2 separate regions of the Homo sapiens genome follow, and region 2 is reported to be linked to region 1. Evidence: microRNA targets listed by miRTarBase, many of them from high-throughput screens and not tested one by one. Region 1 holds a microRNA gene; the other region holds the end of a gene's coding sequence.

Region 1 (5,378 bases):
TGCTAAATGTGTTCAGTTGACTACAAATTGGCAGAGGAATCCAATTTTCTTGACAACATTTCAGCTGTGACATTTGACCTGGGGAAATAGCAAGCTGCCGACGTGGCAGCCATGGAAGGAAATTCACGGTGGCGGCGGTGATAAACAGTGATATTTGATGTAGACAAGAACACATTGAGGAATCAAATCTTCATGCAGATTTTTAAATGGAAAAAATTGATCCTAATGAAAATGATTTGGGGAAAATAACAAGGGAAATAAGAGAAATGAAAACAGCTCAACAGCGCGGTCAGGAAAGCTAAACAGGGAATTGGATTAGTATAATGGCATTGGCTCTGAAAAACACGTTTCTATGAATATCAGTGTTGGTACAATTCTTGTGAAGGTGGTTACATTTGTGCGTGTTTACAGTGGAGTTGGTGGGGTCAGTAGGAACCTAGGGTCAAAAAATGGGATACAGTCTCCCCCTTTATGCAGTTGATCTTTTCTTGCTGCCCCAAACCTTCCCGAGAGCTTCCCGGAAAGGTGTGCTGACTTCAGGCGTGACACACTGGTAAGGCGTCCTCCCGGGGATCTGGGTGCATGTTGTCCCCAGAGCATTCATACGTAAGTGACAGGCATCACCTGGTCTCCCTCCATCCCCACGGAGGGTTCTGGGTGAGACGCTGACTCCGGAGGGAAGCAGAAGTTCTACGGTCAGTGGGGTCTGGTCTTTCAGGACAGTTGCTTCTGTGAACTCAGAAAATCTGAGACAGCTCTTAGTTAATTTAGAAAGTTTATTTTGACAAGGTTGAGGATACACCCGTAACACAGCTTCAGGAAGTACTGTGGTCAAGGCACAGCTTGGCTTTATACATTTTAGGGAGACATGAGACATCATTCAGCACATGTAAGAAGTACATTGGTTTTGTCTGCAAAGGTGGGACAACTTGAAGCGAAGGCAGGAAGGAGGGAGCTTCCAGGTCACAGACAGGTGATACACAAATGATTACATTCTTTCGCGTTTCTCATGAGCCTTTCCAAAGGAGGCAAATCAGATACGCATCTGTCTCAGTGAGCAGAGGGATGACTTTGAATGGAATGAGAGGCAGGTTTATCCTGAGCAGCTTCCAGCTTGAGTTTTCCTTAGTGATTTTAGGGGCCCGAGATAACTTTCCTTTCACACTTCCAAGGCTATTGATGAACACACAGGCATCCAGGAACATTCTGGGGTTCAGTCCTTCCTCAGACTCTGCTGTTGATACCTTACATGGTTCCATGCTGGCCCCAAGGACGTGCCCTTCGTTGGTGCCGAATGTCATTTGGTCATAGAGGCTGAAAGTCATTCTGGAGTTGATGTTTCCAAGGTCAAAAACCTTGCTGGGGCTGTGGAAAGAGCTCGTTGTTTGCTGGCCTGCTTTGTTGGTGACCAGCATTGCACATGGCTTTCTTTTCAGATCAAACCCTACCTGGAGAATTTCCAGAAGCAACAGCACCCTCAGGAGGCGGCCTGCAGCCGGAGCCCTCTCCAGGGCAGGTGCCTGAGGGCCGCCCATGGGACAGGCCCGATTGTACCCACGGTGCATGTCATCTGTTCCACTCCTGCTGACTCCGGTGCGTTCCGGGACCACCTTGGGAGGTGATGCCTGCCCCAGGAAGGAGGCTCTGATGCAGGTCAGTGCCCATGGCTCCTGAAGGGAAGTCGTCTGTGACATCTTTTCTTTCTTTACAGCAGGCCTCGCATGGCTGGCCTCTTGCTCCACTTGTAGCAAGGCGCAGAGGGCTCTCTGAGCTCATGCCAACGTCAGGGAAAGGATTCTGCTGTCGGTCCCACTCCAAAGTTCACAGAATGGGTGGTGGGCACAGAATCTGGACTCTGCTTGTGGCATCCATCGTCTGGCCCGATGCTTGCTGGCTGCCCGCTCCAGGAGGCACCTTCTGGGTGTTCTCTGAGTCTGGGGAAGGTTGGGTTCTGAGGTCAGGGCTGCCCTGACCCTTGTGAAGAGAAGACATCTGTGACTCACCTGCTTTCTTCTGCTGCATTTATCCCCCCAGTCCCTTATTTTGAATGTCTCACTTGCTTTATGAGGCTAATCAGATGGTCAGCCAGCTGTTGATAACTGTGAAGTTACTCTTTGAGGGATCCTGGGGTGATGCCTCTGTGGGCTGGAGATGGTGCTGGTGAGACCGCAGGTCTGGGGTCAGCGTTGTGCCCCGTTGAGCTCCCGCCAAAGGAATCCTCTGCTGGGAGGGAGGCTCTGTGCTTGTGCAGGGGTCCCTACAGGGTCACCCCCTCTCAGGGTCTGGGAATGAAAAGCGGGTGCGAGCAGGGTTTCATTTTCATCTTTAGCAAGGTGCCCAAGGAAGGTTGCCGTCTTTTCAGTATAAGATCCTACCTGGGTCTTGCACTCAACTTCTGGGAAGAGTCTCTAGATTCATTCTGGAAGGGGTTGGAATCGTTGGACTTGGTGATTGGGAACGTCCTTGGAGAGTGTGAGGCTCTGGGCTCTGAATGCCCAGACCTTGTGCTGCCCTTGGGGGAGGGTCTTCTGCAAGCACAGCCGCCTGCAAGCATTCACCTTAGTCCGAGCATCTGAGCCTCTCCATGGTACTCGGGGAGAGGTTACCCGAGCAACTTTGCATCTGGACGACGAATGTTGCTCGGTGAACCCCTTTTCGGTATCAAATTCCACCAGGGAGGCCGTCTTGGAGGCTGGGGCACCTCGGGGAAGGACGCCGGCATCAGCACCATTCTGGGGTACGGGGATGGATGGTCGACCAGTTGGAAAGTAATTGTTTCTAATGTACTTCACCTGGTCCACTAGCCGTCCGTATCCGCTGCAGCCTGTGGGGCCTGCGGGCCGGGGAGCCGATCGCGCTTCAGCTCAGCGCCTTTCCTGGTACTTGAAGGGAGATCGACCGTGTTATATTCGCTTTATTGACTTCGAATAATACATGGTTGATCTTTTCTCAGTATCAAATCTCACCTTGGAGGACCCGTTGGAGATGAAGCCCTTTTGAGGGTAGGAGCAGGACGGGTGCTTTGGAGTCGCTGCCTCAGTGGGGCCTGGTCACCGAGAGTGGGCCGGGCAGGGGTCTCTTTCCTGTCTCTGTGTCTTCTCACCTTTGATGTCCCATCCGTCCTCAGGACTGCTTCCCGGGGGCAGCGCTGGCACCACGGGACGCGGCAGCCACGTTCTTGAGCCGATGGCACTCTGGGTACCTGAGAAGAGGTTGTCTGTGATGAGTTCGCTTTTATTAATGACGAATATAACACAGATGGCCTGTTTTCAGTACCGCTACCGCCCGGTGGTGTGCGGGCGCCACGCCTGAGGCGGGACTTTCCAGGGTACGTGAATGCATGGGCTGGTGTGACATTTGTCATCCTTTCCCCTGACCCCCGCCATTGAATCATTTTGGGAGAGCTTTCGGGGGGCCATGTGGACTTTGGGGAAGATGCTAGGGTTGTGCACTGTGGTGGGGGGCGGTCATGAAGCTGATGAGCAATGGTGACGGGGCTCAGTCTGTTTTTCATGGCCAGTGTCATCGAGGCAGAGGACACGGGGGAGCTAGTCCCGCTGGAAGGCATCCTGCTGGAAGGCCACCCACCCCTCGCCAGGATGTTGGGGGCGGCTGCATGCATTCCCTGCACCTGGGCTGCCTTCTGCTCATCTCAGTGCTGTGAGACCCTGGGTGGGAGCTGGTGCCTTGGGTGGCCGTGTGCGTGTGCTGCTCCTTGTGGTGCCTGAGGAGAGGTGGCCTGTGTTGCATTCACAGAAATCATGACACACAAGACACGAGCGGCCTCTCTTCAGTATCAGATCCCACCTGCATGATTCCTGCACCTGCTGATGTCGGGGAGGTCCGGTTGCGCGCCCTGTGGGCCCCCAGAGGCATGGCTGGTGGCCGAGCACGCGCTTGACTTCCACCTGCAGCCCTGTGCTGGCCTCCATCCTGGAGGCGGGTGGGTGGCAGGGCCCTTCCCTGTGGAAGAAGCCTCCTCCCTGGAGTCAGTGCTGCTCAGTGGTACCTGAAATAGGTTGCCTGTGAGGTGTTCACTTTCTATATGATGAATATTATACAGTCAACCTCTTTCCGATATCGAATCCCACCTTGGATGCCTTCCTCTTTGCTGTCAACTCCAGGCAGCAGCTGGCTCTGCGCTGGTTGACCCTGTGGACTTTGTGTAGGACCTGTGTCACTTGGCCTGTTAATTTTCCAGCTCCACTCTGTTCTGGGGGGCTTTGGAAGTGTGACAGAATGGCATCCCCAATTCCAGTGTCAGCGGGAGCACCCGCCATGCCCTTGCTTCCGGTTGGCACATCCCCCAGGCTGGGCTGGCTCTCAGCTACCCGATGCTTATGTCATATTTGCACCCCTGGCCTGCCCAGACTACAGGAAGATGACCAGAGGCCTGTTTGCAGCTGACCTGGAGACTTAGTGACTCCAGAACATGCTGCCCATGCCCAGGGTCCAGGGCTGAAGGCAAGGAGCACCTCAGGAGTGACCCCAAAGAATGAGCTAAGGCTGTCCTTTATCACTCATTGTTGATCAGTGAGCTCCTGGGCTCGGGAGATCTTCCTGAGCTGGGCTCCCGTCATCCCCTAGTTGAGACGTCGCTGCCTTGGAAGTCACAGCCTGTGCCTGCCCTCCCCCTTGTCCTCCTCCTCGGGACCGCTCCTCTCCATGCCTAGCATGGGAGTGGGGATCCCTGGCACCATCCCTCTGGGCTGCCTGCTCCCACTCTCCCTCAGCACCCCTCTTCCCCAGCCCCTGGGCCACAGCCCTGCTGGAGAGGCCGCCCCACAGGCTAGGTCCCTCCAGCCTGTGGCACTTGGGTCTCCCTCCAGTGCCCCTCCCTCTGCCAGGGAGAGCATTTCCAAGTGCAGAGTCCAGCTGTTTAACTCCGCTGCCCAGGGCACCTCTGCAGGCCCCTTCCCTTGGGCTTGGTACCAAAATGATCCGAGGACCCCCCAGGCCCTCAGAGTGGCAGCCCCCCTCTTCTTTTGGAGCCACAGCCTATCCCCCACGTGTTTTCATCCTTCATTCTGGCCTTGCACATGCCCCTCCTTCCGGAGCTGGGTCCTGGGCCGCCCTGCTCTGCCCTCGGCTGCCTCCTGTCCAGGCTCTGGCCCTTCCTTCCTTAAAGGCCCACATCCTTTGCATTTTCCTTTCCCAGGGGTTCACAATTCCCAAGGGGATGGAATGGCTCTTGTTCAGCAAGGTCATCCCTGATAACCCTATAAAAGCAGCTCCCCTTGCCTCTTCCCTATCACATTCTACCAGTTGCCCCGTTACTGTTTTCTTCCTAGCTTACAGTTCTCTGAAATTGCCTAATGTTAATGTCTACCTTCTTTGTGCCCTAGACTGTGAGATTTCTCATTGGCAGAAATTTCTCT
Region 2 (5,378 bases), not on the chromosome of region 1:
AAGGCATGTTTTTTGATTTAACAACCTTTTGCCATTATCAAATTATTCTTGCTTTATAAGAGATGTATTTTAATTCTGTAGTTACTGATTATACAAGAAATAATTGCTACTTGATTAGACTTGGCGTATGATGGTCAGACTCAGTGTATTATGGTATCAGGTGATTTGCAAAGCAAATGATACAGTTTTAGTAAGTTCAGAGAGAATACTAACATAAGGATATTTTCTTTAAAAAAGAATAACTTTCCAGAGCATAGAGTATTTAGTGTTTTTAAATGATGGATACTGCTCTGTATGTATTTGTTTCAAAACATCTTATTTTATCTTTGCAGGAGCGATTGGTTACATGGGAACAAGTGCCTTTGTCCGAAAAATCTATACTAATGTGAAAATTGACTAGAGACCCAAGAAAACCTGGAACTTTGGATCAATTTCTTTTTCATAGGGGTGGAACTTGCACAGCAAAAACAAACAAACGCAAGAAGAGATTTGGGCTTTAACACACTGGGTACTTTGTGGGTCTCTCTTTCGTCGGTGGCTTAAAGTAACATCTATTTCCATTGATCCTAGGTTCTTCCTGACTGCTTTCTCCAACTGTTCACAGCAAATGCTTGGATTTTATGCAGTAGGCATTACTACAGTACATGGCTAATCTTCCCAAAAACTAGCTCATTAAAGATGAAATAGACCAGCTCTCTTCAGTGAAGAGGACAAATAGTTTATTTAAAGCATTTGTTCCAATAAAATAAATAGAGGGAAACTTGGATGCTAAAATTACATGAATAGGAATCTTCCTGGCACTTAGTGTTTCTATGTTATTGAAAAATGATGTTCCAGAAAGATTACTTTTTTCCTCTTATTTTTACTGCCATTGTCGACCTATTGTGGGACATTTTTATATATTGAATCTGGGTTCTTTTTTGACTTTTTTTTTTTCCCAATCCAACAGCATCCTTTTTTTTAAAAGAGAGAATTAGAAAATATTAAATCCTGCATGTAATATATCTGCTGTCATCTTAGTTGGACCAACTTCCCATTTATTTATCTTAAAACTATACAGTTACATCTTAATTCCATCCAAAGAAGATACAGTTTGAAGACAGAAGTGTACTCTCTACAATGCAATTTACTGTACAGTTAGAAAGCAAAGTGTTAAATGGAGAAGATACTTGTTTTTATTAAACATTTTGAGATTTAGATAAACTACATTTTAACTGAATGTCTAAAGTGATTATCTTTTTTCCCCCCAAGTTAGTCTTAAATCTTTTGGGTTTGAATGAAGGTTTTACATAAGAAATTATTAAAAACAAGGGGGGTGGGTAATAAATGTATATAACATTAAATAATGTAACGTAGGTGTAGATTCCCAAATGCATTTGGATGTACAGATCGACTACAGAGTACTTTTTTCTTATGATGATTGGTGTAGAAATGTGTGATTTGGGTGGGCTTTTACATCTTGCCTACCATTGCATGAAACATTGGGGTTTCTTCAAAATGTGTGTGTCATACTTCTTTTGGGAGGGGGGTTGTTTTCTTCTGTTTATTTTCTGAGACTCCTACAGGAGCCAAATTTGTAATTTAGAGACACTTAATTTTGTTAATCCTGTCTGGGACACTTAAGTAACATCTAAAGCATTATTGCTTTAGAATGTTCAAATAAAATTTCCTGACCAAATTGTTTTGTGGAAATAGATGTGTTTGCAATTTGAAGATATCTTTCTGTCCAGAAGGCAAAATTACCGAATGCCATTTTTAAAAGTATGCTATAAACTATGCTACTCTCATACAGGGGACCCGTATTTTAAAATCTCCAGACTTGCTTACATCTAGATTATCCAGCACAATCATAAAGTGAATGACAAACCCTTTGAATGAAATTGTGGCACAAAATCTGTTCAGGTTGGTGTACCGTGTAAAGTGGGGATGGGGTAAAAGTGGTTAACGTACTGTTGGATCAACAAATAAAGGTTACAGTTTTGTAAGAGAAGTGATTTGAATACATTTTTCTGGAACTATTCATAATATGAAGTTTTCCTAGAACCACTGAGTTTCTAGTTTAATAGTTTGCTATGCAAATGACCACCTAAAACAATACTTTATATTGTTATTTTTAGAAAGACTCAAAACACCTGTATTTAAACCTTAATATGAAAATCATGCAATTAATAGTTACACAAGATGTTTTCATTACAAAATATGTACCTATCTATTGATGGACTCTACATCCTATATTGTGACATGTAAGTCCTTTAAAAGGTGAAAAGTATGATTTCTTACCACTTAAGTATGATTGATATGATCCAACAAATTTGATCAGAAGCTGTAGGTAAATCCTCTTCTGAAGCCAAAATGGTATATTAAATATAATTTATTGGTACTTCCATTTTCTCTTCCTTCTTACTTGCCTTTAAGATCTTATAAAAAAGAAACTAAAAGTTAATATTTAGTTGCCTATATTATGTAACCTTTTAACTATATATAAAGTACTTTTTTGGTTTCTTTCTCACCACTTTTATTCAAAAGTACTTTTAACATACCAATACATAGTCTGTCTGATGGGAGTATAAATTGGACAGTAAGGTTTTGTCTTAATAAAATGAAATTTGTTTCTCATGATATGAATCTTGCAGGTAAGATGTAGGGTTTATTGAAAATGTGTGGGTTAAATGCTTTCAGGTACACCAATTCTTTCTACTAAATTGAGCTCTATTTGAAGTTCTTTGGAATCTGTGGTGAAAAATAATTTTCTGATTTCCAAATACATTAAGAGCATTAAATGAATATTAATCACCTTTAAAGTCTTTTAGAAAAGGACTTGTATTGGTTTTTGGCTGCATAGAGGGGTTGAATAAGTGTATGTATGTGTGTGCGTGTGTGTGTGTCTTCTTAAAGAAGATGTAATTCACAAATAGTTTAGCTCCCTAGCGCTCAGTTGTAGAATAGAAAATAGAACATTATTCAAGTTAATTGAAAGGTGAGGTTTTTATACCCCCACTAATGCTGTGTATCTGTCTTTCGTTTGTTAACATTATTTGCTTAATTTCTTTCAACTCACACTTTGGATAATACTATCAAAAACTAAGGCTAAACATTCCTTGTGTATCTTTAAGCATGCTTCTCCTGAAATTTAACTACATTAGTAGTTGACATTTGTATACATATATCCTAATACAAGAGTAGGATAAGGTGGAAATGTAATGGCCTGAGGGATGGTGAAGCATTCTTTTAGTATTTTTCATCATGTTGGGCTCCTAGATTGTACTGGGGTTGCCCATAAATCAAACCCCATACTCTTAGAATTCATTATATTATGGTGATATCCGAACCTAGTGAATGGTATGCTTGGGTGTTTTCCATTGAGAGTGGATGGACCTCTTTATAAAGTTGGTTGCTGCAAAATCCAGTTCTTCCAAAAGCCACTTTATTTAGGGTTTATTCACAAGTCATATCCATTTTGGTACAGTGTTTGTTTCCTAATATTTATTAACCACCTTATACCAAATGTCTTGCAAAGAAATGTTATTAAAACCTTGAATTTTTACAAATGTAAAAAACAAAAAGTGTATTAATGTATTTGTTCAGGAAAAGCTACATACCGAAGGGCTTTTGTATATGAATTCTGTGGTGGGGAGACCCATTTGTAATCTATATGGCAGTTCCATCTGGGTTTTAAGTTTAGATTTCACCGTGTCTTAGTGCTTCATTCTATTGGTTTATTGGAACATGTAATAAATAGGAGTAGTGATGTATTAAAACACAAGTATTCATTAATGTTTTATATCTTCACTAAAATTCTATAGTTATGAAACTATCAATCAAGGTGTTATATTTCAGTCAGAAGTGAAAATTTATGAAGAGTATTTGGAAGTGTGTACAGAAATAAACTAGACTTACAGGTAGGCTAGATCAGAACGTTAACATATGAACCTGCAGAAATCTGGTAAGACTTAAATTCAGTGTGAGGAATAACTCTAGTTCTCTCCTATGAGCATTTCCTAAAAGCCATCTGATTTGGCATTCTTACTGGAGCTGCAGACAGAAATCTACAAAGACAAAAGTAAACAAAATTAAGTTATTATTCCACTGTTAGGAATGGAAATAAACTTGTGAAGTCTGTTTATTTTGAAGTATTGGTGAACTAGGCTTGCTAATTGATAACTGCAGCAGTTTGTGTTTACTCCAGTTCATCAGCTTAGGTCATTTGAAAGATATAAGAGCTTAAGGCAAGAAAGAAATAACATGGAATTCTATTTGAAGGACAACAGAACATTCTTGGAAAAGCAGCTCCAGTTGGTTTTTCAACTGTCAAACTTGAATGTGTAAGTCCCCACAGAGCATGGACAGTCGGTGCAGAGTTCCAAGGAAACAATTATTGCCTGATGACCACTTCCATTTTGTATACACTCTTTGGTTCGTATAGGCCATATTCCAACTGGCTTTTTAGTAATAGAAATCCAGTATATAATGTATCAAATACAATTGAGGTTCTAACCTAGTGTGTTAATTTATCTGAATTTGGATTTTTAAAAAGTAATAAAAAGTTAAATGTACTTCCTTTGGATTCCTTATTTCTTTCCTTTTTGAAACATGAACCAAGCATAAGGGATAACCCATTATTGACAGGCAAATGAATAACTTAGTAATAGTTTTCCACAATTAAAGCAGGGGTCTGCAGACTTTTTCTGTGAAGGTCTAGATAGTAAATACTTTCAGCTTTGAGGGCTATGCAGTCTCTGTTGAAACTATCGTTGTAGCACCAAAGCAGCCATAGTAGACTACATAAACTAATGAGCATGGCTATGTTCCAGTATAACTTCACAAAAATGGCCCACAGGCCATAGTCCGCTAACCCCTGGAATGATGTATTTAAAATTTAAGGTTTAAATTTGTATTTCAAAAGTGAACTGTAATATACAGTAAAGTTGAGAGAATGGTCCAGTGAATAAGATTGGTCTTTCTTAAGAATGATTTTTCTTTTATTGCCATTCTTTTGACTTTTTTGTATACCTATTCTGACTCTTACACTCAGACTTTACCATCTATTTGCCTGCCATCCTCTGATTGATGATTCTTTGCATTTGTTTAGCATTTACTACTTTTTCAAAGCAGTTTCACTTGTTCCTTCACAACCATCCTGTGAAGCTGGTAGAGTAGATAGCTGTGTTTTATGGATAAGAAACCACAGCTAAAGGTGCTCTTATGTTTAGCCCAGAAGTCATCAAGATTCAGGGCCCTGTTGTCTTGACTATTGTAACTGTAAAATGGGGGTGTCACCCTCTCTAGCCTGGGAGGCAGGTAATATATGTAGAAGTCACATTGAAAATTAGTGTTCTATACGAATGGAAGAGATTATTTTTATTGTGCCACATTGAAAT

The links. Region 1 holds the annotated microRNA hsa-miR-412-5p (UGGUCGACCAGUUGGAAAGUAAU, at 2,751-2,773, shown strand). A microRNA usually pairs through its seed, bases 2 to 8, with sites in the 3' UTR of a target mRNA and lowers its output. Matches are read on the target gene's strand: a 7mer-m8 pairs with bases 2 to 8, a 7mer-A1 pairs with bases 2 to 7 and ends in A, and an 8mer does both.
Region 2: miRTarBase lists TM9SF3 as a target of hsa-miR-412-5p. Seed matches in the 3' UTR shown: 7mer-m8 at 874-880.

Annotation. Positions count from the first base shown.
Region 1 is chr14:101,062,715-101,068,092 of GRCh38, forward strand. MIR412 (microRNA 412) reads left to right here and starts at 2,733; the gene lies at 2,733-2,823. It overlaps MIR541 (microRNA 541), which reads left to right and starts at 1,781; the gene lies at 1,781-1,864. It overlaps MIR409 (microRNA 409), which reads left to right and starts at 2,586; the gene lies at 2,586-2,664. MIR369 (microRNA 369) reads left to right here and starts at 2,884; the gene lies at 2,884-2,953. It also overlaps MIR410 and MIR656.
Region 2 is chr10:96,517,285-96,522,662 of GRCh38, reverse strand. TM9SF3 (transmembrane 9 superfamily member 3) reads left to right here. Exons shown (of 15, transcript NM_020123.4): 15 at 333-4,553. The coding sequence ends at 400. Among named protein-coding and RNA genes, the nearest start is that of TLL2, 6.0 kb to the right of the region's middle.